Linked DNA regions of Homo sapiens. The protein of the gene in region 1 purifies or fractionates together with the protein of each later gene. This does not show direct contact. Each region holds a gene or a part of one and is shown in the gene's direction. Other genes may lie near its edges. The genes, in order: PCDHA3, TMEM59, MLYCD, PIGA, ABCB9 and ABHD6.

Evidence for each region.
Region 2: the proteins of PCDHA3 (region 1) and TMEM59 purify together in Homo sapiens (co-immunoprecipitation; one large-scale study listed by IntAct). This does not show direct contact.
Region 3: the proteins of PCDHA3 (region 1) and MLYCD purify together in Homo sapiens (affinity purification with mass spectrometry; one large-scale study listed by BioGRID and IntAct). This does not show direct contact.
Region 4: the proteins of PCDHA3 (region 1) and PIGA purify together in Homo sapiens (affinity purification with mass spectrometry; one large-scale study listed by BioGRID and IntAct). This does not show direct contact.
Region 5: the proteins of PCDHA3 (region 1) and ABCB9 purify together in Homo sapiens (affinity purification with mass spectrometry; 2 studies listed by BioGRID and IntAct, with this or other methods). This does not show direct contact.
Region 6: the proteins of PCDHA3 (region 1) and ABHD6 purify together in Homo sapiens (affinity purification with mass spectrometry; 2 studies listed by BioGRID and IntAct, with this or other methods). This does not show direct contact.

What each region holds. Positions count from the first base shown.
Region 1 is NC_000005.10:140,798,839-140,805,024, forward strand, and holds the start of PCDHA3 (protocadherin alpha-3 isoform 1 precursor), read left to right. Parts: upstream 1-2,218; 5' UTR 2,219-2,359; coding exon 2,360-4,753; coding exon of another isoform or gene 4,754-4,834; exon of another isoform or gene 4,835-6,186. UniProt on the Homo sapiens protein: Potential calcium-dependent cell-adhesion protein. May be involved in the establishment and maintenance of specific neuronal connections in the brain.
Region 2 is NC_000001.11:54,046,705-54,050,204, reverse strand, and holds part of TMEM59 (transmembrane protein 59 isoform 2 precursor), read left to right. Parts: intron 1-2,832; coding exon 2,833-2,938; intron 2,939-3,500.
Region 3 is NC_000016.10:83,912,615-83,916,114, forward strand, and holds part of MLYCD (malonyl-CoA decarboxylase, mitochondrial), read left to right. Parts: intron 1-2,341; coding exon 2,342-2,875; 3' UTR 2,876-3,500. UniProt on the Homo sapiens protein: Catalyzes the conversion of malonyl-CoA to acetyl-CoA.
Region 4 is NC_000023.11:15,327,945-15,333,440, reverse strand, and holds part of PIGA (phosphatidylinositol N-acetylglucosaminyltransferase subunit A), read left to right. Parts: intron 1-1,448; 5' UTR 1,449-1,510; coding exon 1,511-2,225; intron 2,226-2,793; exon of another isoform or gene 2,794-5,127; coding exon of another isoform or gene 5,128-5,220; intron 5,221-5,496. UniProt on the Homo sapiens protein: Catalytic subunit of the glycosylphosphatidylinositol-N-acetylglucosaminyltransferase (GPI-GnT) complex that catalyzes the transfer of N-acetylglucosamine from UDP-N-acetylglucosamine to phosphatidylinositol and participates in the first step of GPI biosynthesis.
Region 5 is NC_000012.12:122,927,362-122,932,843, reverse strand, and holds the end of ABCB9 (ABC-type oligopeptide transporter ABCB9), read left to right. Parts: intron 1-515; coding exon 516-652; intron 653-2,672; coding exon 2,673-2,933; 3' UTR 2,934-3,852; downstream 3,853-5,482. UniProt on the Homo sapiens protein: ATP-dependent low-affinity peptide transporter which translocates a broad spectrum of peptides from the cytosol to the lysosomal lumen for degradation.
Region 6 is NC_000003.12:58,288,629-58,293,345, forward strand, and holds part of ABHD6 (monoacylglycerol lipase ABHD6), read left to right. Parts: intron 1-4,717. UniProt on the Homo sapiens protein: Lipase that preferentially hydrolysis medium-chain saturated monoacylglycerols including 2-arachidonoylglycerol. Through 2-arachidonoylglycerol degradation may regulate endocannabinoid signaling pathways.

The sequences.
Region 1 (6,186 bases):
AATAACTGTCTTAAACGGTCCTCTACTATTTAGTTCTTAGTTATTTGCTGTTTATTCTAAATATATGTGCATATTGATAAATCATAGAAATAACTTCCACTAGTGATCTTACCTTTAGCCATTTCATAGTTAGGTCAGAATATCCATTTCCAAGTAATACTTGACCACTATGTTTCTACCATAGGTAAATGATAAGCTTCTAAAATTATATTCACATATATCCAAATCTCCAGGAGTCACAATCTGTTGCTCTATAAGTTTTTTCAAAACATTCTTATTTACATTTTTTCTTGGTTGTCTAAGTGACATCTAGGTGGTAGTAGAAATTATTCACTGATACTTTATCTACAAAATGGCTCAATCTTCTAAACTCATAGTTCCTTTAATATTACCTTTATCTCTTAATAATCAGTATGGAGTCTACTCTGCTATAAATTCTCATGTGACATTCCATTTTGCAATTAGTATAACTCTTAAAGGTACTGAAAAGTGCAGTATTACAATAAGTTGTCAAAGGCATCTCATTACTATGAAGTCCATGAAGTTTAAAAATTTTAAATTTATCTCTTATTTTCAAACTAGCTACCATCTTTAAAAATTCAGCAAAGTGGTAACTGGAATATTAATAGCTATAATTATTTCTTAGGTCCATGCTTTTCAGAAATAATGCTTAAATGTTTACTTACTTCTTCATAATATAGCACAATATAATCATTTAGAAATTATGTAAGTTTGATATTAACAAATATCATTAACTTACATTTTTATTTATCTTGCTTGAAAAAGTTAATTCAAAATATTAATTTATTTATTCATGAAAACAACAATTGATAATTTATCCTATTCTAAATATGAATGATAAAATCTGAGTAAGTTGCAGTCCTGGCTTCCATTTCATGAATACACAGGAAACAAAAGCTGAAATGAAAACTTTTCCCCTAAATATTTAAATCACATGTTTGATTTCATTTTTAAATGGTCTGGGTATAAGCAAAAATTTGTACATTATTTTATTTCTCTAAATTTGACCTCTTTCCATAAATTTTCTTTGCCCCACTTCCAAATGCGGCGAGAATTCATGCTTCTCATTGAATTCACAGATATCTTTAGAATGTTTTATTGCTTAGTGTTAAATATGTTGAGTAAATACTGGCTTATGTTCCTAGGTTACTTTTCTCCCTTCACTGTTTAGTTAAATAATCAATTCTTTCAAGTAACAACTTTTAAAAAAACTGGAATCTAGAAATTCATCAGGAGTGGAGATCATCAAAAACGTAATTACTTTATATTGTTAACATTTTAGTATATACAGGTAAATTCAAATACATAAAGAGTGTGGAAAAATTAAACCTAATATATTCTTAATTGATGTGATGTGAGTGTAACAAATATACAAATCACATTCCCACAATAGGAAACAAATTTCCTGTTTGAATTTCTCTGTAAAGGACCGACTTCTGAAATCTTTATGTAAGTTACAGTCAAGACAGTTGATGAGGCTATAGTTCTTGAAAAAGGGGCATGGGAGGGAATTACAGACATTCTACAAATTTAAAAAACCATAAATGTACATATTTTAAGAAATTAACAGTTGCTGTAATAACATAAAAGTAGATATATGTATGTTTTAATATATACAGCACACACACACTTTTAAATACTTCAACATCTCAATGTTTTGATGATCATAAATCTGAAAGGATCTGATTTTTCTATAAAATGTAACTTGGGTGGTAAAGAGGTTAATGGTAAGTTGTCTTGAATCAGATTGAAATCCCATCGTACCAAGAGATAATATCGTTTTACTTAACCTCTATGTGTTTATAAAAAGCGAATAATATTAAAACTTATTTCAGAGGATTGTGATAATTTAACGGGATAATTCCATTAAGACAAATAGAAAAGTGGCTGTCACATGGGAAATATTTCCAATAGATGTCCACTGTTAAAACAGGAATCACAATATTTTAGTGTATGTCATGAATTAGCACAATTGATAGTGAATTAGTATAAAAGTTCTAAGGAAATATTTAGATAAAATATAAGGACTTTGAGGAGTGACCGAAGGATATTACAATTGAAACTAGAAATTTTGGGAAAGTTCAAACGACATACAAGGAAAAGAAGATACGTTTACATATTTAATACTTACACGTTTAGCCACATGATGTCGCTGTCCACCACAAGGTCTTTCTCCACAAAAGAAATAACAGCGTGCATTACGTATTCAGATACTGCTTTGCTTCATCCTCTCTAAAATTTAACACCGAGGAGTTTAAGAAATGAAGATAAGGAACTCGAATTATTTTTAAACTTTGGATCAATGTAAAGGCAATCTAATATTTGGAAAATACTTGCAATGTTGTTCTCCTGGCGAGAAGATCCTGGAGCCCAGTGCCTGCTGCTTTCTCTTCTGCTCCTCGCAGCCTCGGAGGTGGGGAGCGGCCAGCTCCACTACTCCGTCTCTGAGGAGGCCAAGCATGGCACCTTCGTGGGCCGCATCGCGCAGGACCTGGGGCTGGAGCTGGCGGAGCTGGTGCCGCGCCTGTTCCGGGTGGCGTCCAAAAGACACGGGGACCTTCTGGAGGTAAATCTGCAGAATGGCATTTTGTTTGTGAATTCTCGGATAGACCGCGAGGAACTGTGCGGGCGGAGCGCGGAGTGCAGCATCCACCTGGAGGTGATCGTGGACAGGCCGCTGCAGGTTTTCCATGTGGAGGTGGAAGTGAAGGACATTAATGACAACGCGCCAGTTTTTCCAATGGCTGTAAAGAATCTGTTTATTTCCGAATCCCGACAGCCTGGCTCTCGGTTTTCGCTAGAGGGCGCATCAGATGCAGATATCGGAACAAATTCGTTGTTGACTTACAGTCTTGATTCCACTGAATATTTTACCTTGGACGTTAAAAGAAATGATGAGGAAATTAAATCCCTTGGACTCGTGTTGAAAAAAAATTTAAATCGAGAGGACACTCCTAAGCATTATTTACTAATAACAGCAATTGATGGTGGGAAACCAGAGCTCACTGGCACGACTCAACTAAAGATCACTGTTTTAGATGTAAACGACAACGCCCCAGCGTTTGAGAGGACGATCTATAAAGTCAGATTACTCGAAAATGCACCAAATGGTACCCTAGTGGTGACCGTTAACGCCACCGATTTGGATGAAGGAGTAAATAAGGATATCGCGTATTCTTTCAATACGGACATGTCAGCAGATATTCTGTCAAAATTCCATTTAGATCCAGTCAATGGACAAATCAGTGTAAAGGGTAACATAGATTTCGAGGAAAGTAAGTCATATGAAATCCAGGTAGAAGCCACGGATAAAGGAAATCCCCCAATGTCAGATCACTGCACAGTTCTACTCGAAATTGTGGACATCAATGATAATGTACCTGAGTTAGTTATTCAATCACTATCTTTACCTGTATTAGAAGACTCTCCACTTAGCACAGTCATCGCTCTGATCAGCGTGTCCGACCGCGACTCAGGAGTCAATGGACAGGTCACCTGCTCGCTGACGCCCCACGTCCCCTTCAAGCTGGTGTCCACCTTCAAGAATTACTACTCATTGGTGCTGGACAGCCCTCTGGACCGCGAGAGCGTGTCGGCCTATGAGCTGGTGGTGACTGCTCGGGACGGGGGCTCGCCTTCACTGTGGGCCACGGCCAGCGTGTCCGTGGAGGTGGCCGACGTGAACGACAATGCGCCGGCATTCTCGCAGTCCGAGTACACGGTGTTCGTGAAGGAGAACAACCCGCCGGGCTGCCACATCTTCACGGTGTCTGCGCGGGACGCGGACGCGCAGGAGAACGCCCTGGTGTCCTACTCGCTGGTGGAACGGCGGGTGGGGGAGCGCGCGCTGTCGAGCTACGTGTCGGTACACGCGGAGAGCGGCAAGGTGTACGCGCTGCAGCCGCTGGACCACGAGGAGCTAGAGCTGCTGCAGTTCCAGGTGAGTGCGCGCGATGCGGGCGTGCCGCCTCTGGGCAGCAACGTGACGCTGCAGGTGTTCGTGCTGGACGAGAACGACAACGCGCCGGCACTGCTGATGCCTCGGGTGGGTGGCATCGGTGGCGCAGTGAGCGAGCTGGTGCCGCGGTCAGTGGGTGCGGGCCACGTGGTAGCGAAGGTGCGCGCAGTGGATGCAGACTCAGGCTACAACGCGTGGCTTTCGTATGAGCTGCAGCCTGGGACCGGCGGTGCGCGCATCCCGTTTCGCGTGGGGCTGTACACGGGAGAGATCAGCACGACCCGTGCCCTGGACGAGGTGGACGCCCCGCGCCATCGCCTACTGGTGCTGGTGAAGGACCACGGTGAACCCTCATTGACCGCCACGGCCACTGTGCTGGTGTCGCTGGTGGAGAGTGGCCAGGCACCCAAGGCCTCGTCCCAGGCGTCCGCTGGCGCCACGGGCCCGGAAGCTGCACTGGTGGATGTCAACGTGTACTTGATCGTCGCCATCTGCGCGGTGTCCAGTCTGTTGGTGCTCACACTGCTGCTATATACTGCTCTGCGGTGCTCCGCGCCGCCAACCGAAGGCGACTGTGGGCCGGGCAAGCCCACGCTGGTGTGCTCCAGCGCGGTGGGGAGCTGGTCATACTCGCAGCAGAGGCAGCAGAGGGTGTGCTCTGGAGAGGGGTTGCCCAAGACCGACCTCATGGCTTTTAGCCCTAGCCTTCCTCCTTGTCCAATTAGCCGGGATAGAGAGGAGAAACAGGATGTGGACGTTGATCTCTCAGCCAAAGTGAGTAATTTTTATTTATTCTTTCCAAAATGTCTTTGTTTTTCATTCCTCAATGTTTCCACTCCTCTGGAAATACATTAATAGTTAAGTATGAATTATGTGATTCATAATTAGACTTTTCCAGTTTTGTGGTTTTGTGGTTAAAACGGTAAGATTTTTGTTGCTAATTTTTGAACCAAATCAGCAGTAAGTTATGATATCCACACTTGTAATTTTGTTTTGTTATTAGGTGCAGTAGTAGAATTATTTTATTGCTAAATGCCTGGGTATAAGACAAATATTTTTTCTTAGATGAATTGCATTATTTAGAGAATCTGACTTCGACTTGTTTTATACTTATCCCTATACAATGCTTCTTCAATATCTTTTGCCACTTTTCATTTGGACTTCCTACTACCTGTTAGTACAAATGTTACTTGCTCATTTTATGAGTTCACCTAATGCTTATAACTCCCTATTGATTATGCTTTTCCACCTTCAGTTTCAAAAATTAGATCATTACACCTGTTGTCTTTTATGGAACCTCTTTTATTCTCTTATTCACTTGTTTGGAGTCTCAATCCTTATTTTTTACTTGAATATGATTCATTTTAGGCCTTGTGCTCTAATTTGGCAATACCGTTTATTGTTTCTTGATTTCCCAGTTGGGAAAAAAATCGAGAATAACAATTGCATTTAGAATTGCATCTTTGTTCATCTTTAGTTTATCACTACTTTATTTAATACTACTTTAATAATACTACTGTATTATATGTTAAAATTTATTACTAATAACTAAAATATCAATATGAAGTGAAAATTTAATAGTTGTATAGTATATTTATATATTCATTTTAAAAGAATGTTTTAAATCTTGTTAAAAATAATTTTCAATCTGAACAATATCTTGAAAATAATTATGGTATCTAATTTTAAAACTATCCCTACTAGCAAAACTTTTTATTCATTAGTGTCTTTTGCATACCATACTAAGGATGCTAATATGAAATAAGTTTGATAAGCCAATGTTATAATGTTATTACTGGTTAACTTCTCTGAATAGCATCCTGCCTATTAATGTGTGCCATGCAATAAGTAGAAAACTCCAAATAACCAGAACCAAATGAAATTGAAGGTAGACTTTTTTCTAATCACTACCCCTACATATTTGGTTATCTCCTCTAGCAATTAGTTGGACTCCCATTTAAGTTTCCCTACCACTGGAGAGAAATAGTAACCAACTGAAACCTGGTTAATACTCATTGACAGTGTGGGAGGTCTAACACGTAAAATAGATATTTTTCTTGACTCCTCTCCTTCCCCTCACTTCCATTTTCTTTATTTCCTTTTTTGGCACTATCCTTTGTTGCTCCCTTGTCCATGAAGTAGTAGCCATAGTGTGTCCATCTCAGGTCAGTATTTTAAAAATTTAGTTCTGTTATCAGCTTCTTGAA
Region 2 (3,500 bases), on another chromosome or scaffold:
GCAGTGAGCCAAGATTGTGCCACTGCACTCCAGCCTGGGGGACAGAGCAAGACTGCATCTCAAAAAAAGAAAAAAAAAAAAGAAATCTCAGACACTTTTTGAGAACTAATTATTTGTTGCAAGAAAGTAGAATACCTGTTTGTAAATAGTTATTTTTAAATTATTCTATGTTTTATCTACAGAAGTGCAATTGCATAATTTATCTCGGTCGAAAAAACAAGAGACATAAATCATGTTAATAAAAAAGCTAATTAGAGCCAGCCTGGTCATTTTTTAATGGAGTGTGGTCTCTAGAACCATACAGACCTGGTTTTATTCCCAGCTCCTTGATTACTGTTTGTCCTTGCTGATCACTTAACTTCTATTTATTTATTTTTTAATTTAAAATAATTGAAACAGGGTCTTGCTGTGTTGCCTAGGCTGGTCTCAAACTCCTGGGCTGAATGGGTCCTTATGTCTTGACCTCCCAAAGTGTCGGGATTACATGCATGAGCCACGGTGCCTGGCCTAAATAGTACCATTGAGGGACCTTCTAATTATGAATTTAGCTGGTATTTCATATGGTGGAAGCACTATTTATTGTGTCCTAAATCAGAGGAGATACATGTTATATAAACTTGCCAGTCATTTGGGATACATAGGGCATGAAATATTTACTTGAAATCATTATTTTTGTATATATAACATGAAATACTTAGAATAAAGATATGATTCTTGATAGCTACCAGTTGAGTGCCTGCTCCATACCAGATGTTTCATAATTTGTTAAGTCTTAATACAGTGCCTGGCACATTGTGGATGCTCATTAAATATGTCTGTCTATTAGATAGTACTACATAGTAGTAATGCTATTGTAGATATAAATATATAATTCTCCTAATAGTGAAGATTGACACTCTGCAATTATACAGGCAGTAGAAAATAAATGAATAGTAGTTAGGATTGATGTAAGAGTATTGTCCTTATTTTACAACTGAGGAATTAGATTAAGTAACTTGTCAAAGGTTGTGCAGAATAAGTGGCAAGTCTGAGCTTCAAACCAGGGCCGATTCCTGAAACCTCGGCTCTTTTCACCATGCCATATGGTTTTCCGAAATTGGTACTGGATGACTTATTAAAGGAAAGCATATCTGAGAATGAAATGGCATGTGGTATAGCTCATACTAATGAGCTTATGCTTCCTTTGTGCAATATAAGGAAATATGTGGTGCTCCAGAGACATAAAATAATTCTTTAACTGTTTTACAAAGCCTGCAACAGCTACTCAGATATGAAATCTATCTCAATTGTTAAAATTCTTTCAATTTCATCTTAACAGTAAATGCAGTTGGAACTGAGGTCCAAAAGTGTGCTACCTTCAAAGTTGTATGATAAAGTATATTTAATATTAGACTGCAGGCATCTCTTCTTGATGGATTGTTGCTGCTGCGTAAATTTTACTAATCCTTTTGCTGGAAAGAAATACATAGCTTGTATTTCATTGGTTGCTAACTGGTATATGCACATGCTGTTTCCTTATTAGGTGTCTGCCAGTTTGTACACAGTGGATCACATAGTAAGTCGAGGGGGCTCCCCCATATGCAATAGCTTTTTTTAAATACTTTTATTTTATCAAAGAAAAACAGCTGAAGACATTAGTCTTATTAAGCAGTTAATATTTTACAGTAATGAAGAACCAGATGTCCATCCTGTCTTAAGCTTTCACACGTATACATTGATGCCTGTAATTGTTTTCTATTTTAAAAATCTATTAACACTATTACCATTTATTAAGCACCTTCTACATCCCAGGCACTATACTGGAAATAGCTTCCAAATTATTGAGGAATTTGGAGATAATGGCTGTTCTCTCCTTTTTTGATGAGAAAGCTGAGATTCTTAGACAGGTAAAATAACTTATGCACTCACCCAAAAGGTTTGATCTAGGTCTGGCTGATTGCAGTGTCCTTTCCCATACACCACACTGTTGCTCCTGTGTTTTCATTTAATGTAAGCCCAGTTTTAAAAAATCCCTTCATATAAACATTTTTATAGATGTATACCTTACTTTATCAGGCCCTTGTGTCACCATTTGCCATGTGAAGCTAGTCTGATACTTTTCCTGATAAGCCTGGTGATTCATATAAACAGGGATGTGGCAGAAGTATGCCATTGGTCCTAGGGTACTTGCTTACTCCTATCGCTGTTAAAGTTCTAGTTATATCACCGTTGTGTTTTTTGTTGTTGTTGTTTTTTAAGCAACAGGGTCTCACTTTGTACCCCAAGCTGGAGTACAGTGGTGTGATTATAGCTCACTGTACCCTCAAACTCCTGGGCTCAAACAATCCTCACACCTCAGCCTACTGAGTACTAGGACAACAAGTGTGCACTACCATACCCAGTTATTTTTGTGTGTGTGTTTGTTTTGGTACAGATGGGGTCTCGCTATATAGTCCAGGCTGGCCTCAAACTGTTGGCCTCAAGCAGTCCTCCCACCTCAGCTTCCCAAAGCCCTGGGATTACAGGTGTGAGCCACTGCACCTGGCCTGTCACTATTAGTTTTATTTTTAATTTTTCCCCCCCACAGATTGTAACCAAAGAAAATGGAAAAAGGGTGGTGGTTTTACCTACTAGGCTTTTTTCTTCGTATCACTTTTAAAATAAGGAACTAAAACCTCTATATGGCAAAGGTCTTGAGTATCAACTGGCTCCTATCATTTTTTTCTTTCAGTTATGAAACTTACTGGACGATTTGTAATAAACTTTACTAACTGCTTTCTTCCTAACCTGTTTTCCCCTGAGGAAAAAAAAATACTATTTTTTGGTAACCCTTCCTGTTCTTGAACTCCCTAGGAAGAGGAGTTGTACGCATGTCAGAGAGGTTGCAGGCTGTTTTCAATTTGTCAGTTTGTGGATGATGGAATTGACTTAAATCGAACTAAATTGGAATGTGAATCTGGTAAGATGCTATGCTAACGACATCAGCTGTATGTAACATTGTTTTCTTTGTGATAAGCTTTTGAAGTATTTTCTTTAGGAAATGGAAAACACACTGTTGAAACTAGTCATCTAACATATTGTAATTATTATGGATCTAAGAGTTTTCGTAGCTGCTGCTAGAAATTTCATGGGCTTTAAATTTCATCTGTTTGTTGAGACAGTGTTTATTTTCTGCTATGAATAGGACACCTTTGTTTAACCAAGCATTCTGTCAGACAAATGCAGTATAATTACCCTACTCACAATTCATTACTACCTTTTCACAGATAGTATAATTTTCCTAAACCTTTCAATCATAAGTTCATCGACTTATCTCCAAGTTTTTTACTGAATCAGGCCTTTGACTCAGTATTTAATAGCATATTATTCATTGGTCAGGCCATTAAAATAAGTAGCCAGAGGCTTTGTCATCTGTTAAACCACTTTTCTTTCTTTTTGCTGAAAGCAATATGTTTAACAAAAGAAACCTATAATCAGGACACAATTGACGTTTAACTTTTTAAATAACTATAATGGAATAT
Region 3 (3,500 bases), on another chromosome or scaffold:
ATTCTGAGGTCATCAACTCTCTCTAGGGTGACCTCGTTCTGACCTGGTCAGGACACTCTGGATTTCACGTGTCATCCTGGTGTAAGTGTCACTCTGAAATGTCCCAGCCAGATGGCACAGCTGGTAGTCATCCTGCCACGCCTGTCCTCCCCCTGCCCCTGCCCACACTCTCAGGGCCTCTGACACCTGATGTGCTGTTAGCTTGGGCCTTCTCATGGCCTGTGAGGGAGTGCTGAGGTGAGACCAGACAGCTCGAAGGTAAATGCATCGGCTTTTAATCTAACTCTCCTCTCTTTGCTGCCCTGTGAAAAACATATTAACCATCCTACATCAGAAATGTTGATGTTCACTCCAGGCCTAGGCTTTCAAAAACCACCAGCCTCATCAGGGACTTGGATAAATTCCAATGAGTAGAATCTAATAATTAGGTGCGGTAGCTAGATGTTTGCTAATGACTGGCTCTGAGCAGGGTGTTCACTGTGTTGGGGGCTGCACATGGCTGCAGCAGAGGCCTTCCTTTGAGGACGACAGTGTGGAGTGGGGACGTTTACATGCTCCTAGTAAATTCATAATCAATTTCTAATTGAAGCCCTCAGGATTCAGCTGGGCGTGGGCTTCATTACCACGCCGCCATGTTTCCCCCGGGTAACAATGAGCCGTAGCTCATTCCCACAGTTTCCTCATTCCTCTGTCTTCACTGAGGGTGGTGATTAGCAGGGCGGGGTGGGGAAATGTATCAGGGTAAGGAAGGCAGGAAGAGGAGGAGCAGATCCCGGGATTCGGGGGAGTTGGGCCTTAGCCCAGCAGCTGTCCTGAGGGTGTCGCTTAACTGCCCCTGGGCGGCCAGCCTAGAAGTCCTCAAAGGGAGTCTGGAAGGGAACAAATGGCCCCTCTGCGTGGAGGCGCTCGTCAGGGTTTACAAAAGCAAAACACAGCTGGGCGCAGTGGCTCACGCCTGTAATCCCAGCCGAGGCAGGCAGATCACCTGGGGTCAGGAGTTCGAGACTAGCCTGGCGAACGTGGTGAAACCCCGTCTCTACTAAAAATATAAAAATTAGGCATGGTGGTGCATGCCTGTAGTCCCAGCTACTCGGGAGGCCGAGGCAGGAGAATCACTTGAACCTAGGAGGCGGAGATTGCAGTGAGCCAAGACTGCACCATTGCGCTCCAGCCTGGGAGAGACAGTCTCAAAAAAAAAAAAAAAAAAACAGTGGTTCGGGGTGGGGGAAAAACCCCGGGAGCTACCACGAATGCCCAACGAGAGGAACATGGTGAGGAAAATCATAATAGGCTGCTTTTTTTATATTACTCTGTGGTTAAAATCTTCTGTTTTTGAATTTTAAATGATAATGAGAAAATGCTCACGATATAAATTCATATTGCAAAATATAAAGTAAGTGTCTCACCCATGCAAAAATCGCATCAAGAAACACCAGGAGTTTATCTGAGCAGACTGTCGAGAGTGGTTTTCTCAATGTAGTGGAGTGTGATGGTTTTATTTTCTTCTGTCATTAATTTTTTCAAAAAATATCTATAGTGAGCATGTGTTACATTTATAATCAGAAAGTAGCAGATTGTTTGAAATGATCATGAGATCTCTATCTAGTTGGGACAATAACGATTGAACCGTGTCATGTGATATGGAGAGATACCCGCAGCGTCCCCCTCCTCGCCCTCTACCCCGTTCTGCACCCGCCGTGGTGTGGCCGGGCAGCTAGTCGCTCACTCACCAGTCCCTGGCCACTCGTGTGCCGAGCAGCAGAGCAGCTTCCGGGGCCTCACAGGTGGCCATGGGAGGAGCATGGTGTACGGGAAAGACAAGGCCTGCAGTGAGTAGCTGCAGTGCACCGAGCCCCACTCCCCACTGGCCAGCTGTCTGGTTTTAGGCAAGTCCCCCAACACTCTAGTCTCGGTTTTGCCGACATGAGAAGGGATGGTGGGGACAGAGACGCCCTGCCTTGGGGAGTCAGGATGCCTCCAGGGTCTGGCACACATCAGGTTCCTGATAAATATTTCCTGCTGGGTGTGGCGGCGCGAGCCTGTGGTCCCAGCTACTCAGCAGGCTGAGGCAGGAGGATGGCTTGGACCCAGGAGATGGAGGCTGCAGTGAGCCATGATGACACCACTGCACTCCAGCTAGGGCAATAGAGCAAGACCCTGACTCTAAGAGGAAAAAAAGAAAAGCTGCTTGAAAGAAGATAAACAACATGTATCAGATGTCACTCTGACCGCTACACAGCAGCATGTGAGCCGTAGGTTAAGAGGTGCTCCTCTGTTGGTAACGTACCTGCTGAATTTGTGTTTTCTCCGCCTTCCTTTCCACCCCAACCATGCTTTACAGAGAGAGTTTCCTCACCTTGGGGTGTTTTCAAGTCTGTCACCTATACCTGGTTTCACCAAATGGCTTCTGGGGCTTCTGAACTCGCAAACGAAGGAGCATGGGAGGAATGAACTCTTTACAGATTCGGAATGTAAGGAAATCTCGGAGATCACAGGTGGCCCCATTAACGAGACCCTCAAGCTCCTCCTCAGCAGCAGCGAGTGGGTGCAGTCGGAGAAGCTGGTGCGGGCGCTGCAGACTCCGCTGATGAGGCTGTGCGCCTGGTACCTGTATGGAGAGAAGCACCGCGGCTACGCGCTGAACCCCGTGGCCAACTTCCACCTGCAGAACGGGGCGGTGCTGTGGCGCATCAACTGGATGGCGGATGTGAGCCTCAGAGGCATCACCGGCTCCTGCGGCCTGATGGCCAACTACCGCTACTTCCTGGAGGAGACGGGCCCCAACAGCACCTCCTACCTCGGCTCCAAGATCATCAAAGCCTCTGAGCAGGTCCTCAGCCTAGTGGCCCAGTTTCAAAAGAACAGCAAGCTCTGACAGTAAACCTCTCCTAAAGCACAGGGCCCCGGCTAAGAAAACGATCATTTTCAGGAGGGGCCGGGAGTTATGTATCTGAAGCAGCTTTCCAAGCAAAGCCAAAGTTGACTGTGTTCTTGTCCCGCAGCCGGTCCACACTGTGAGGCCAGGCCTCAACTTCCCTCACCCTGGGCGTGACATGCACCCAGTGCAAGACGGTTGTGGGTGCGGGTGCACACAAATGAGTGGGTTGCTGTGCTGTCTCCGGAAGATTCTGTCGTTGCCCTTGGCCTGGCTCCCTGCCCGGGGCTGGTGCTGTGGTACCTACATCTTCAGGAAGCTGTGCAGCCTCTGCCATTGCCATCCCAGGGGGATCTGGCATCCTCCTAAGGACCGGGGCGCGTGGCCCAGATAAGAATAGGTGTTCCTTTGTGCTCATAAAACAGAATGCGGCGATGGTTGCTTTAGCCGTTTCTCACCATGCAATGCAGAGGGACAAAGGGCTGTGCTACACTTCCCAGTTACATTCTGAAGCTCATAAATGTATGAGAAGGTTTGTGATTTTGCACAAGGTGTGTGTAGTAAGTTAAATTGTTGAACACAAAAATGTTGCTGCTTGAGGCATAAGTTGGATAATAGGCTTTAA
Region 4 (5,496 bases), on another chromosome or scaffold:
CCAAAGTGCTAGGATTACAGGCGTGAGCCACCGCACCCGGCCTAAATAATCACCCTCTTTGAATAAGGAAGGAGAACATGTGTGCAGCATGTGCTCTGGTGACATTTGAAAAAGGTGCTCTCAAAAAGATAGTTCGAGCTCCGGGTGTGTTTTAGTGTAAACCACAAAGGTAATGCTAGCAAAACTTTGAGAGTAATTGAATCAGTGGCTAAGCTATAGAGCAGGGGTTGGCAAACTTTAGTAGAGGACCAGATGGTAAATATTTTCAGCTCTGTGGGTCATATGGTCTCTGTTGTAGCTACTCTGCTCTTGTAGCACAAAAGTAGCCATTCACATAAATGAATGGGCACACCTATGAGCCTATAAAACTTTACAAAAACAGGCAGTGGACCAGTATAACCGAGTTTGGATCCTGGCCTGTTTTAGTTGTCTGTTATTTTTTACCAAACCACCCCAAGACGATGTAAAACAATAGCCATTTTGGTATGTTTCATGATACTGCAGTGAGCTAGGCTCAGCTGGGTGGTTCTCTTGGTCTTGCCAGTGGTCACTAGGAGGCTGCATTTAGCTGGTAAGTTGGCTGGATGGCTGGGCCTCTGGCTCTTTCCATGTAGTCTCAGAGCTCTTCCTTCTCCATATTATCTCTTCCCTTGTCCCTCTAGCACAGTAGATGGATTCCTTACACTTTGGCTTAGGATATCTAAGAGTGCACAAGTGAAAACCACCACACCTTGGAAATCACCACACCTTTTTTAGGCCGAGGCCAAAAATTTGCACATCACTTTCACTACCTTCTATGGGCTAAACCAGGTCCAAATGCAACGGGAAGGGACTATACTATAGAAGGGCATAAATACCAGAAGACATGACCGCTAATGAATCAGACTGCTACATTGTGTTACCTCTAAGCACTGAATAACTGAACAAATTTCTTAACCCCTTTAAGCTTTAGACTTTCCATTTATAAGATGGAGTTGATAACTCATGGAGTTTTGGTGAGGCTGCAATAAGATATAGAAGAGTCTTAGCATGTAGTAGCTGATGTATAGTGGCCATTTAATAAGTATTAATAGAAGCTGGTAAAGTATAAGAGTAAAGGGGAAATATATAAATGTGTGTATGTATGTGTGTATATATACTTAATTATTGGAAGAGACTGGTTTGTTAACGTGGTAAACCATGATATGCTGTGGTGTAACAAACTTACTATTTAAAGTTACATGTAGCAGTATTTTTAGGGCAAAATTAAGACATGGTAGAACCTAGTTTTGTTGTATGTAAATGCCAAGCAAGTAAATGTCAAATGAGTAAATTGATGATTTGCTTTATTTTTAATTCTGGGGAAAGCTAACAAATTTACATTAACATTAAAACAATATCTATATCTGGATTTGTAATATGGAATGTGTTTTGTTTCTGAGCTGAGATCCTGTTTTACTCTTTTTCAGGTAATAGAGGACACATCTCTTAACTGGGTTGCTCTAAGAACTGATGTCTAAACCGTCTCAGCATGGCCTGTAGAGGAGGAGCTGGGAATGGCCACCGTGCCTCAGCTACACTCTCTCGGGTTAGCCCTGGAAGTCTTTACACATGTAGAACCCGTACCCATAATATATGCATGGTATCTGACTTTTTCTACCCAAATATGGGAGGCGTGGAAAGCCACATTTACCAGCTCTCTCAGTGCCTGATTGAAAGAGGGCATAAGGTTATAATTGTCACCCATGCTTATGGAAATCGAAAAGGCATCCGTTACCTCACCAGTGGCCTCAAAGTCTATTACTTGCCTCTGAAAGTCATGTACAACCAGTCTACAGCCACGACCCTCTTTCACAGTCTGCCATTGCTCAGGTACATATTTGTTCGGGAGAGAGTCACGATAATCCATTCACATAGTTCTTTTTCTGCTATGGCCCATGATGCTCTCTTCCACGCCAAGACAATGGGGCTTCAGACAGTCTTCACGGACCATTCCCTTTTTGGATTTGCTGATGTCAGCTCGGTGCTTACAAACAAGCTTCTAACCGTGTCTCTTTGTGATACAAACCACATCATTTGTGTGTCTTATACTAGTAAGGAAAATACTGTACTAAGAGCAGCACTGAATCCTGAAATAGTGTCCGTCATTCCTAATGCTGTAGATCCTACTGACTTCACTCCAGACCCATTTAGAAGGCATGATAGTATAACTATTGTTGTTGTCAGCAGACTTGTTTACAGAAAAGGTAATGAAATGATAGCTATAATTGCATTGTAGACTTTTTTCCCTATAGAAAGCTGTTGAATACTTGTATATAATGATTGTTTGGCTTTTCATTTTGTTTTATGGTTTTATAATGCTATAAATTATAGCAAAGAAAGTTCTAATATTGGTTTATATATCCAAGAAGAGCGATTTTTCAGGATGGTGGTGAATGCTGTCCCCCAACCTTTGATGTTTTAATGGTTACTAAAAATAAGAATAACCTGATGCTGTTAAATTTCAGATCTTTTTAAAAATTAAAACAGCCCTGCACATGTGGTAAAGAAGTAGAGGGCAGGCCGTGTACGGTGGCTCACACCTGTAATCTCAGCACTTTGGGAGGCTGAGGCAGGCAGATCACGGGGTCAGGAGGTTGAGACCATCCTGGCTAACATGGTGAAACCCTGTCTCAACTAAAAATACAAAAAATTAGCTGGGCATGGTGGCAGGCTCCTGTAGTCCCAGCTACTCCGGAGGCTGAGGCAGGAGAATGGCATGAACCTGGGAGGCGGAGCTTGCAGTGAGCAGAGATCGTGCCACTGCACTCCAGCCTGGGCGACATAACGAGACTCCGTCTCTAAAGAAAAAAAAAAGAAGTAAAGGGCAGAGCTCACAGATGGCTTTTTTCTTCTGATTGCCAAAGTAATGTCTTTTCATTGCAGATATTTTGGAAACTAAGAAAAGCACAAAGATGAAAACTAAAATCAGCTGTAACTGTATTATTCAGAGATACCCTAATGAGTATTTTGATTTATAGCTTTCCTGTCTTTTTTATGTGTACGTACATATACTGAAAATCAGTGGGCTTGCTCTGCACGTTACTGTATTGTAGCTTGCTTGTTTCATTTCATCATGTATAAGACATTAGTAACATATTGGCAGGTAAGTGATGAAGAAAAGGGGATTAGATGTCCTGGGATCAGATGATGGGTCTGTCCTGCTGTGTGATCGAGGACAAGTAGCTTAACATCTCTAAGTCTCAGTTTTTTCATTTGTGTAATGTAAGCAACATTGGGAACCTCGCAAGGGTTCAGTGATAGTTCCTATAAACTATTAGCCTAGTTTGTAACTGTCCACTATTATCAAGGAGGTTTTTGGGTTTTTTTTTTTTGAGACGGAGTCTCGCACTGTCACCCCCCGGGCTGGAGTGCAGTGACGTGATCTCAGCTCACTGCAACCTCTGCCTCCCAGGTTCAAGCGATTCTCCTGCCTCAGCCTCCCAAGTAGCTGGGATTACAGGCGCCCACCACCAAGCCCAGCTAATTTTTTGTATTTTTAGTAGAGACAAGGTTTCACTATGTTGGCCAGGCTGGTCTCAAACTCCTGACCTCGTGATCCACCTGCCCCGGCCTCCCAAAATGCTGGGATTAACAGGCGTGAGCCACTGCACCTGGCCAAGGAGGCTGTTTTTTGTACCTCTACAGCACTTAATGGACACTGCAGTTGAATGTGTGGAGGCTTGTTTACTAAAAGTCTGACACAGTCTGGTTATAAAAAACAGTGTCTTCTGAGTGCTATTTGAAAACCTGTCCACTAATCAAAAGTGTCATTTATAGTAGGGAATCATTAAAAAAAATACATAAATACATACCCCCTTAAATAGTTAATATTTGAATTAAACTCAAAATATTAATACACACTGAGTTGCCCGTAGTTTGATGTAGGATTGCAGGCTTTGAGTGCTGGGCCACTGGTTTCAGCTGCATCTTGCACACCCTCCTTCATAAAACATAATCTACCATTGCTACTTTGAGTTTCTTTTGGGTGGGGTCAGAACTTAAAGGCGTATGAACTGATATGCTTCAGGAGTTTTAATTTGTTTTCAATTTTATACAGTAGTTTAGGACACCCCTCATCTGCCAAGAACTTTTTTCTGTGACATTCCTTTATTGGATTTTTCAAACTGTTCAGCTTAGTTTTTGTGGATACTCTTTTTGTCAGTTTATATGATAATTAAATTACTCAACACGACGATAACAAGTACAACTGACATCAAACAGATGTGTGAACAAACAATTGATTCTTGACAAGCACTGAATTCAGTGGTGTGCCAGTGTGCTAGGGAGTGGCCTAAAATCTAGATGTGGGCCTTGGTCAGTTTACGTTTGGAATGGAGAATCTTGATTGACCCAGCAGTCCATTTAAGTGGAGGTTGGCAAGGAAACTTGGCCTGAACTTCATTTTCTGGTTTGAAGGCAATGACATGCTTTCATTCTTTAATCAGGAACATGTGAACCGACTGGCATTCTGTATTCTGAATTCCTCCTGGGACATTAGTGATGTGTTTTTTTGTAACTTAGGAATTGTACCTAATTTATTTTTTAACCAAATAGCATATCTTCTTGAGATGGCTAGCTGAGAAAGAGTATGACACAAGTGTGATCAAGGATCAGCAAAATTAACTACCCATGCAAAGATTAAACCTGTTACCTTTACTTCCCTAATGTGGTATTTTAACTAGCTGAGCTAACCACCAATGGAGTGATGGTATGGCCTTTCCTGTACTCAATTCAGTAATTGAACAGTTATTTATCGAACCCTCTCCAGATGCCAGGCACCCTGCAGAAAGTAACATTCTGAAAAGGAACAGCCATGCCTGTAGCCCAAAAGTGAGTAGTTGTATTAATGGTCCATTCCTTATTAACAAATTAATTTCCTCAGGAGTTTATTGGACCAGATATCAAAGTCCCACTGGAATGTCTTAAGTGAGAGAGAGGATAAATCAAAGTTTTCCTTATCCAGGCTTTTTGGATGTCTTTTTCCTGAGCCTCCTCTTCCAAGCCTGTTTTGCTCTCAGTCAGGATTTACCAGCACTCTGCATGTGTAGGCACGCTCACCTGCTTCCTTCTGTAGTGGTAATGACAACCTACATTTGTATTCTGCAGTTGATAAAGCCTGTTCGTGGTACAATACCTCATTTGACCCTCCCAACAACTGTAGGGTAGATGTTATCTACATGAAATTGAGTCTCAGAGAGGGTAAGTAACTCACCCAGGTTACACAGTAAGTAACAGAGATGACACACGAGTTCAGCTTTTCTGGAGCTAAGTTCTCCTCTTCCTCCACCCATGCCCAGCCACTCATATCCTAGGTGTAGATCAGAAGGTTCTTAAAAATATTGTTAGACTGAGCTTTAAAAGCAGTTTGGATCAGAGATTTTCATTGTCTGTTTTGTGTTCACATGGCAGTCGAAAGTCTCTAGGTTCCATTGCATTATACCCTTCTTAGAGGCTCCAGAATAAATTTTTTTATAG
Region 5 (5,482 bases), on another chromosome or scaffold:
TTTTGCAATAACAGCGCTGTGGGTCACAGGTGACCTGTGTCTATATTGTTGTGCATGGGAGGAAGTCGGTCCATGGGGAAAATTGGTCCAGGTGGGCTTGCGGGGCCACAGGCCACACATCTGTGGTGAATACACACAACCTTTGCACTGCACAGACTCATAGACCCAGGGTTATTGCTGCAGCTCTTCAAGCCATGGGGCTCGCTCCAACTCCCCTTCTCCAGGAGGACGGGTGAGGGCCTGTCTCCCTGCAGCCTCACCTGCACTGTGTGCTATCAGATGTTTGGGTTTCTGCCAAATGAATGAGTGAAAATTGGTAACTTGCTATCAATTTGCATGTAGGCTTAATCTGCATGCCCCTTATGAGTTGGGTGGGGGGAACATCATTTCATGAGCTTTCAAGTTGTGGGTTCCAGCCCGCCCTTTCCACAGCTGCAGGGCAGGGCCTCTCACTCTTCCCCGGTGCTGCCCGGCCTCACCCATTGCTAAATTGTCTCTGTGCCTCCACCATACAGAGACAGGGGAGAAGGGCGCCCAGCTGTCAGGTGGCCAGAAGCAGCGGGTGGCCATGGCCCGGGCTCTGGTGCGGAACCCCCCAGTCCTCATCCTGGATGAAGCCACCAGCGCTTTGGATGCCGAGAGCGAGTATCTGGTGAGTCACAGGGTGGTGGGCAATGCGGGGGCAGGAGCGGCTCCAGGTGGCCAGAGCCCCCATCGCCCAGCAGATGGATGCTGAGAAGAGACGGGCCCCAGGAGCTCTCCCAGACTATCAGCCTCCTGGGCTGGTGAATTCCTGGTGTTGAGAGTGGGGAGCCAGGAGCCACTCTGGACCCAGCCTCCAGGCTCCAGGCAGAGCTGTATGGTGTGGGGCAAGAGAAGGCATCAGAATGGGGAGACCTGGGTCATGAGTGGTGGCTTACACCTGTAATCCCAGCACTTTGGGAGGCCGAAGCAGGTGGATCACCTGAGGTCAGGAGTTGCAGACCAGCCTGGCCAACATGGTGAAACCCCATCTCTACTAGAAATACAAAAACTAGCCAGGTGTGGTAGCACATGCCTATAATCCCAGCTACTTGGGAGGCTGAGGCAGGAGAATTGCTTGAACCTGGGAAGTGGAGGTTGCAGTCAGCCGAGATTGTGCCACTGCACTCCAGCCTGGGCGACAGAGCCAGACTCCATCTGGCTCAAACAAACAGACAAAACAAAACAAAATAAAATAGGCCCAGTATGATGGCTCATGCCTATAATCCCAGCACTTTGGGAGGCCAAGGCAGGTGGATCACTTGAGGTCCGGAGTTCGAGACAAGCCTGGTCAATACAGTGAAACCCTGTCTCTACTAAAAATACAAAAATTAGCTGGGCATGGTGGTGCATGCCTGTAACCCCAGCTACTCGGGAGGCTGAGGCAGGAGACTCACTTGAACCCGGGAGATGGAGGTTGCAGTGAGCTGAGATTGTGCCACTGCACTCTAGCCTGGGCGACAGAGTGAGACTCCATCTACAAAAAAAAAAAAAAAAAGGCTGGGCGCAGTGGTTTATGCCTATAATCCCAGCACTTTGGGAGGCCGAGGCGGGTGGATCACCTGAGGTCAGGAGTTCAAGACCAGCCGGGCCAACATGGTGAAATTCCATCTCTACTAAAAATACAAAAGTCCGCCAGGTATGGTGGCAGGTGCCTGTAATCCTAGCTACTTGGGAGGCTGAGGCAGGAGAATAGCATGAACCTGGGAAGCAGAGGTTGCAATGAGCCGAGATTGCACCACTGCACTCCAGCCTTGGCAACAGAGTGAGACTCCATCTGAAAAAACAAACAAACAAACAAAAACAAAAAACAGAATGGGGATACCTGGATTAGCAGCTCCGTCCTACAGTTTATAACTGTGTGACCTCAAGCTAGTGCTTCCCCTCTGAGTCGCATTCTCACTGGTCAGGTGGGCCCAGTCATGTATTTGCAGATGGCTAGCAACCTCAGTCTATGCGCGGATTGATTCATTTGTTACACAGAGAGTTACTGAGCTCTTCTCAGGCACCAGGCACCAGGCACCATTCTGGGGTTATCGTGGGCTAACTAGACAAAGACCCTTGTCCCCATGGTGTTTCCATTCCAGTGGGGAAGGCAGATAAGAAACAAGGAAGGCCAGGCGCGGTGGCTCACACCTGTAATCCCAGCACTTTGGGAGGCCGAGGCCAGGCGGATCACAAAGTCAGGTGTTCGAGACCAGTCTGGCCAACATGGTGAAACCCTGTCTCTACTAAAAATACAAAAATTAGCTGGGTATGGTGGCGGGCACCTGTAATCCCCTAGCTACTTGGGAAGCTGAGGCGTGAGACTCGATTGAACCCACGAGGCAGAGGTTGCAGTGAGCTGAGATCGCACCACCGCACTCCAGCCTGGGTGACAGCAAGACTTAAAAAAAAAAAAAAAAAAAAAGGAGGGGGAAGGGAAGGACCAGAAGACTGGAGGGCCAGGGTAGAGCTGATCCCCCATTCACCAGGTGCCTCATTGTGTCTGGCCCTGAGCTGTCTCCCTTTAAGAAAAACCCAGGAAGCTGGCCATCGTTTGTGAACTGAGCCTCAGAGAGGTTAAGCATCAGCCCATAGGCCGTGGCATGAAGCACGGTTGCGGGTGGGGCGTCCGTGCCATGCAAGCCAGGCCCCCACTGTCCCCGCAGATCCAGCAGGCCATCCATGGCAACCTGCAGAAGCACACGGTACTCATCATCGCGCACCGGCTGAGCACCGTGGAGCACGCGCACCTCATTGTGGTGCTGGACAAGGGCCGCGTAGTGCAGCAGGGCACCCACCAGCAGCTGCTGGCCCAGGGCGGCCTCTACGCCAAGCTGGTGCAGCGGCAGATGCTGGGGCTTCAGCCCGCCGCAGACTTCACAGCTGGCCACAACGAGCCTGTAGCCAACGGCAGTCACAAGGCCTGATGGGGGGCCCCTGCTTCTCCCGGTGGGGCAGAGGACCCGGTGCCTGCCTGGCAGATGTGCCCACGGAGGCCCCCAGCTGCCCTCCGAGCCCAGGCCTGCAGCACTGAAAGACGACCTGCCATGTCCCATGGATCACCGCTTCCTGCATCTTGCCCCTGGTCCCTGCCCCATTCCCAGGGCACTCCTTACCCCTGCTGCCCTGAGCCAACGCCTTCACGGACCTCCCTAGCCTCCTAAGCAAAGGTAGAGCTGCCTTTTTAAACCTAGGTCTTACCAGGGTTTTTACTGTTTGGTTTGAGGCACCCCAGTCAACTCCTAGATTTCAAAAACCTTTTTCTAATTGGGAGTAATGGCGGGCACTTTCACCAAGATGTTCTAGAAACTTCTGAGCCAGGAGTGAATGGCCCTTCCTTAGTAGCCTGGGGGATGTCCAGAGACTAGGCCTCTCCCCTTTACCCCTCCAGAGAAGGGGCTTCCCTGTCCCGGAGGGAGACACGGGGAACGGGATTTTCCGTCTCTCCCTCTTGCCAGCTCTGTGAGTCTGGCCAGGGCGGGTAGGGAGCGTGGAGGGCATCTGTCTGCCATCGCCCGCTGCCAATCTAAGCCAGTCTCACTGTGAACCACACGAAACCTCAACTGGGGGAGTGAGGGGCTGGCCAGGTCTGGAGGGGCCTCAGGGGTGCCCCCAGCCCGGCACCCAGCGCTTTCGCCCCTCGTCCACCCACCCCTGGCTGGCAGCCTCCCTCCCCACACCCGCCCCTGTGCTCTGCTGTCTGGAGGCCACGTGGATGTTCATGAGATGCATTCTCTTCTGTCTTTGGTGGATGGGATGGTGGCAAAGCCCAGGATCTGGCTTTGCCAGAGGTTGCAACATGTTGAGAGAACCCGGTCAATAAAGTGTACTACCTCTTACCCCTAACCTCTGACTTCTACTTGGGCCAACTGCCTCATCGCCCAGTTAGGTTTTTCCACCAGACCACGGCTCTCCTCTCAGCCCTCTCTGGTGGAGTTGCAGAGAGACTTTGGGTGGTCCAGGGCCTCCCCCTGTGTCTGGGAGCCCCATCTGCACTCCTCCCATCCCAGGGTCTCTGGTGTAGACATTCCTGTCTGCCTGTCTCCACGGGGATTGCGCAGGGGGATAGAGACGTTGCCTTGAAATCCCAGGGGCCTCTGTGCTTCCCGGGACAGCTGAACTGAGGCCCAACAAATGCCACCTGTTCTTTTCCATCGGGGCCCAGGCACCCGACACCCACCCCAATCCATGCAGTAAAGAAATATTACCCAGGAGGACAGCTCAATCAGCAGGGAGGTTTGGGCCCGGACACAGGAAGACCCCTGCGGTGGTTATTCTTACTTGCTGAATTGTGAAGAACTCTGGGGTCCCAGGAGGAGGGCTCTGTGCCAACTGGTAGAGTAGTATTTCAATTTTTTTTTTTTTTTTTGAGACAGAGCCTTGCTCTGTCACCCAGATTGGAGTGCAGTGGCACAATCTTGGCTTACTACAACCTCCACCTCCCGAGTTCAAGCGATTCTCCTGCCTCAGCCTCCTGAGTAACTGGGACTACAGGCACCCACCACCACACCCGGCTCATTTTTGTATTTTTAGTAAAGATGGGTTTCACTGTGTTGGCCAGGCTGGTCTCAAACTCCTAACCTCAGATGGCCTGCCCACCTTGGCCTCCCTAAGTGCTGGGATTATAGGCGTGAGCCACCGCGCCTGGCCAGCCTTGTCTTTCTCTTATAAAAGCACTTGTCATTGGATTTAGAGGCCACCTAGATAATCCGGGCTGATCTCATCTAGCGGTCCTTTGCATCTGCAAAGACCCTTTTTTCCAAATACGGTCACTTCACAGGTTCAGGGGTTTGACAAGGGAAGCTTTTGGGGGCCACCACTCAGCCTGCTACAGAGGGGAACTTGCAACCTTGGTTGAAGTTAACCTCAGGACTTCCTTTTTGATTTTAGGAAGCAGAGGGGGTTAAGTTTTCAGAGACTTAGCATATCTTCAGATGTTTCCAGAGAAGTTGGAAATTCCAATTTTCATGTGAGATCAGCTGTTTTTTATGTATTGGCTCAAATTATTTTGACAAAACCGAGGACCAACAAGCACATGTGTAGAGGTGGTCTCCAGCCTGTGCATCTCTAGTTTGTAGCGTCAGTGTTGGACATTCCTGTTCTGCAAAGTCCCTCGCAAGGGGCTTCCTGGCCCCAGCCCAGCCCCGTTCCAGTCTAAGCTCCTCTCCCATCTGCCTGTCTCTTCTCATCCCTGCACTTTCAGGCTGAGAATTCCAGATTCTTCTCCCTCTCCTATGGAGTTAGCTCCAGTGCCTTGATTTGTAAACCCACACCCAAAAGTGCGCCATAGGCAGACAAAAGAACCTTCCAGAGACCGAATTACCTTCTTTTTAGGAGGTACATAGGAGTTTTAAAAAAGTAATGTTTAGGCCAGATGCAGTGGCTCATGCCTGTAATCCCAGCACTTTGGGAGGCCAAGGTGGGTGGATCACGAGGTCAGGAGTTCAAGACCAGCCTGGCCAACATGGTAAAACCC
Region 6 (4,717 bases), on another chromosome or scaffold:
ATTTAAGCCAGTTAACAGGCATTTATTGAGCACCTAGTATGTGCCTAACACTGTATTAGGCCCTGAGGATACAGTAGGGACCAAGACAGCCAGGATCCCTGCCCTCCAGCAATTTATCGTCTACCTACCCTTATAGTGCATAACAGGCCCGAGACAAGGGTGAGATGAGAGAGATGTGTCATGCAGGTGCAGGGTCAGATCCTGTCTGTATTTATGATTTTGATATTTTGTTCATCATGTGCCTTTTTCCATTAATGTTTTTTTTAACATACTGCACTAAAATATTTTCTCTTAATTTATGAGTTTTTTGGCACTTAAATTTTGTGCCTTAGGCAAATGCCTCATTTGCCTCACCATAGTTTTAGCCCTGGTGTGAAGCAATGCAGGAAAAGGTTTTGATTTTTGTTTTTTGTTGGGCAGGGGGGTTGTTTGTTTGTTTGTTCTGAGACTGGTTCTTGCTCTGTCACCCAGGCTAGAATGCAGTGGCTCAATCATAGCTCACTGCAGCCTCAACCTCCTGAGCTCAAGCAATGCTCCCACCTCAGCCTCCCAGGCAGCTGGGACTACAGGCATGTGCCACCACACCCGGGTAATTTTTTATTTTTTTTATTTTTTTATTTTTTTTATTGATCATTCTTGGGTGTTTCTCACAGAGGGGGATTTGGCAGGGTCATAGGACAATAGTGGAGGGAAGGTCACCAGATAAACAAGTGAACAAAGGTCTCTGGTTTTCCTAGGCAGAGGACCCTGAGGCCTTCCGCAGTGTTTGTGTCCCTGGGTACTTGAGATTAGGGAGTGGTGATGACTCTTAACGAGCATGCTGCCTTCAGGCATCTGTTTAACAAAGCACATCTTGCACTGCCCTTAATCCATTTAACCCTGAGTGGACACAGCACATGTTTCAGAGAGCACAGGGTTGCGGGGTAAGGTCACAGATCAACAGGATCCCAAGGCAGAAGAATCTTTCTTAGTACAGAACAAAATGAAAAGTCTCCCATGTCTACCTCTTTCTACACAGACACGGCAACCATCCGATTTCTCAATCTTTTCCCCACCTTTCCCCCCTTTCTATTCCACAAAACCACCATTGTCATCATGGCCTATTCTCAATGAGCTGTTGGGCACACCTCCCAGACGGGGTGGTGGCTGGGCAGAGGGGCTCCTCACTTCCCAGTAGGGGCGGCCAGGCAGAGGCGCCCCTCACCACCCGGACAGGGCGGCTGGCCGGGTAGGGGGCTGACCCCCCCACCTCCCTCCCGGACGGGGTGGCTGGCCGGGCAGAGGGGCTCCTCACTTCCCAGTAGGGGCGGCCGGGCAGAGGCGCCCCTCACCTCCCGGACGAGGCGGCTGGCCGGGCGGGGGGCTGACCCCCCCACCTCCCTCCCGGACGGGGCGGCTGGCCGGGCGGGGGGCTGACATCCCCACCTCCCTCCCGGACGGGGCGGCTGGCCGGGCAGAGAGGCTCCTCACTTCCCAGTAGGGGCGGCCGGGCAGAGGCGCCCCTCACCTCCCGGACGGGGCGGCTGGCCGGGCGGGGGGCTGACCCCCCCACCTCCCTCCCGGACGGGGCGGCTGGCTGGGCAGAGGGGCTCCTCACTTCCCAGTAGGGGCGGCTGGGCAGAGGCGCCCCTCACCTCCCAGACGGGGCGGCTGGCCGGGCGGGGGGCTGACCCCCCCCACCTCCCTCCCGGACGGGGCGGCTGGCCTGGCGGGGGCTGACCCCCCACCTTCCTCCCGGATGGAGCGGCTGGCCGGGCAGAGGGGCTCCTCACTTCCCAGTAGGGGCGGCTGGGCAGAGGCGCCCCTCACCTACCGGATGGGGCGGCTGGCCGGGCGGGGGGCTGACCCCCCCACCTCCCTCCCGGACGGGGCGGCTGGCCTGGCAGGGGCTGACCCCCCACCTCCCTCCCGGACGGGTCGGCTGCCAGGCGGAGAGGCTCCTCACTTCCCAGACGGGGTGGCTGCCGGGCGGAGGGGCTCCTCACTTCTCAGACAGGGCGGTTGCCGGGCGGAGGGTCTCCTCCCTTCTCAGATGGGGCGGCTGGGCAGAGACGCTTCTCACCTCCCAGACGGGGTCGCGGCCGGGCAGAGGCGCTCCTCACATCCCAGACGGGCCGGCGGGGCAAAGGCGCTCTCCACATCTCAGACAATGGGCGGCCGGGCAGAGACGCTCCTCACTTCCTAGATGGGATGGCGGCCGGGAAGAGGCGCTCCTCACTTCCTAGATGGGATGGCGGCCGGGCAGAGACGCTCCTCACTTTCCAGACTGGGCAGCCAGGCAGAGGGGCTCCTCACATCCCAGACGATGGGCGGCCAGGCAGAGACGCTCCTCGCTTCCTAGATGGGGTGGCGGCCGGGCAGAGGCTGCACTCTGGGCACTTTGGGAGGCCAAGGCAGGCGGCTGGGAGGTGGAGGTTGTAGCGAGCCGAGATCACACCACTGCACTCCAGCCTGGGCACCATTGAGCACTGAGTGAACCAGACACCGTCTGCAATCCCGGCACCTCCGGAGGCCGAGGCTGGCGGATCACTCGCGGTTAGGAGCTGGAGACCAGCCTGGCCAACACAGTGAAACCCGTCTCCACCAAAAAAATACGAAAACCAGTCAGGCGTGGCAGTGTGCACCTGCAATCGCAGGCACTCGGCAGGCTGAGGCAGGAGAATCAGGCAGGGAGGTTGCAGTGAGCCGAGATGGCAGCAGTACAGTCCAGCTTCGGCTCGGCATCAGAGGGAGACCCTGGAAAGAGAGGGAGAGGGAGACCGTGGGGAGAGGGAGAGGGAGAGGGAGAGGGAGAGCAATTTTTTATTTTTTGTAGAGATGAGGTCTTACTATGTTGGCCAGGCTGGTCTCGAACTCCTGGGTTCAAGAGATCTTCCCACCTCGGCCTCCCAGAGTGCTGATATTATAGGTGTGAGCCACCACACCCAGCCCAGGAAAAGTTTTTGACCATTTATATGAATATTCTATCTAGGAAATCGCTGAAATGGTTCCCACAGATGTGCATATCTCATCAGGGGGTCGTTCAGTAGTTGCACATACCTCTGGGTGGCCATGGAGAATGATGGATTTGTAACGCTAACCAGCAAACAGTGCCAAAGCCAGCAGCTCATATGGGTATTTTTGCCTGTGAGTTGTGGTTTCTGATATCTCTCCAGGATAGACACTCAGTTTTGCCTGGGCATGATGGTGCGTACCTGTCATCCCAGCTACCTGGGGGGCACTGAGGTGGGAGGATCACTTGAGCCCGGGAGGTCAAGGCTGCAGTGAGCCATGATCGTGCCACTGCACTCCAGCCTGTGCAACAGAGCGAGACCCTGTCTCAAAAAAACAAAAAAAGACACTCAGTTGGGAGTTTCCACTTTTTCATGCTGTTTTCACCTATTGACTGCATCTGCGTTTCTTCTGAGTGTTTCCACAGTAGCTGGGTGTTATTCCTGCTCAGTGGGTTGCCGTGGCAGCCTTAGCTGTGAGTGAGTGACAAGGCAGAGGTTTCCATTTCCTTGGCTGGAATTAGCTGTTAAGCTCCCCATTAGCTGTTCCTTTTCCTGGTCCAGGGATGCCCTGCAGGACTCTTTTCCTTGACTGAGGCATCGTCTTACCTTAACTCCCCAGTGGGCAGAAAATCTTGGTTTTAATAATTTGAGTTGGTGAGAATAGAGCAAAGACACAGAAGGTGCTTGAGTTTGTTGGGGCTTTTGCTTTTGCCGTTAAGGATGGGGAGGAGGGGCCCTCTTGTCTAGGATGAATTGAAGGTAAAGGCAGCTAAGAGAAGGGGAGTGAATGCGGATCCACTTCTGAGGGAGGATGTTGGGGAAAAAGATGGAGGTGGATTGGCATAGTAGCTGGGAACCCAGAGGAAAAGGAGAGGAAATGAGTTGTTTGAAAAGGATCAGCCCTGGAAAAGTTCTGGCTTTCATGTTGGAAAAGCATTCCCCATATCTGCAGAGGTTAGAGCCAAGAAACACACAGCTCTGGGGATCCCCAGAGGACCTTCAAAGAGACCTCCAGCTGGGTGCGGTGGCTCAGGCCTGTAATCCTAGCACTTTGGGAGGCTGAGGCAGGTGGATCACCTGAGGTCAGGAGTTCGAGACCAGCCTGGCCAACGTGGTGAAACCCCATCTCTACTAGAAATACAAAAATTAGCTGGGCATGGTGGCGGGCACCTATAATCCCAGCTACTGGGGAGGCTGAGGCAGAAGATCACTTGAACCTGGGAGGCGGAGGTTGCAGTGAGTTGAGATCACGCCACTTCATTCCAGCCTGGGCGAAAGAGTGAAACTCCTTTTCAACAAATAAAGAGATACCCCCAGCTTGTGATAATTAGCCTTCCCCTCTTGCATCCTTCCTACAGCTTGGGCTGCCCTAACCAGCCACAGGGCCAGCCTGATCAAGTCACTCACCTTAACACAGCCTGTGGTTCCCCATGGTCCGTGTGGCTGTAGGAGCAGCGCCCTCCTCTCTGCCCCTTCTCCCCACCATGCCACCCCCACTGCCCATGTGCTTGGTGTCTCAGCCGCCGTGCTCCTTGGTGGCCCCTGCACTCGCCATGATCTCCCACCCTGTGCCATTCCCACATCCGTGAATGCTCCTCCCCTGTCCCCTTTCTGCTCTCCCGGGACTCAGGAACGAGGTCTTCCCTCGACCCTGCTCATCCCCTGTGCTCTCTGACTTCCCCACCATACCATAACCTCCTCAAGGGCAAGGAACGTTTGTTTTC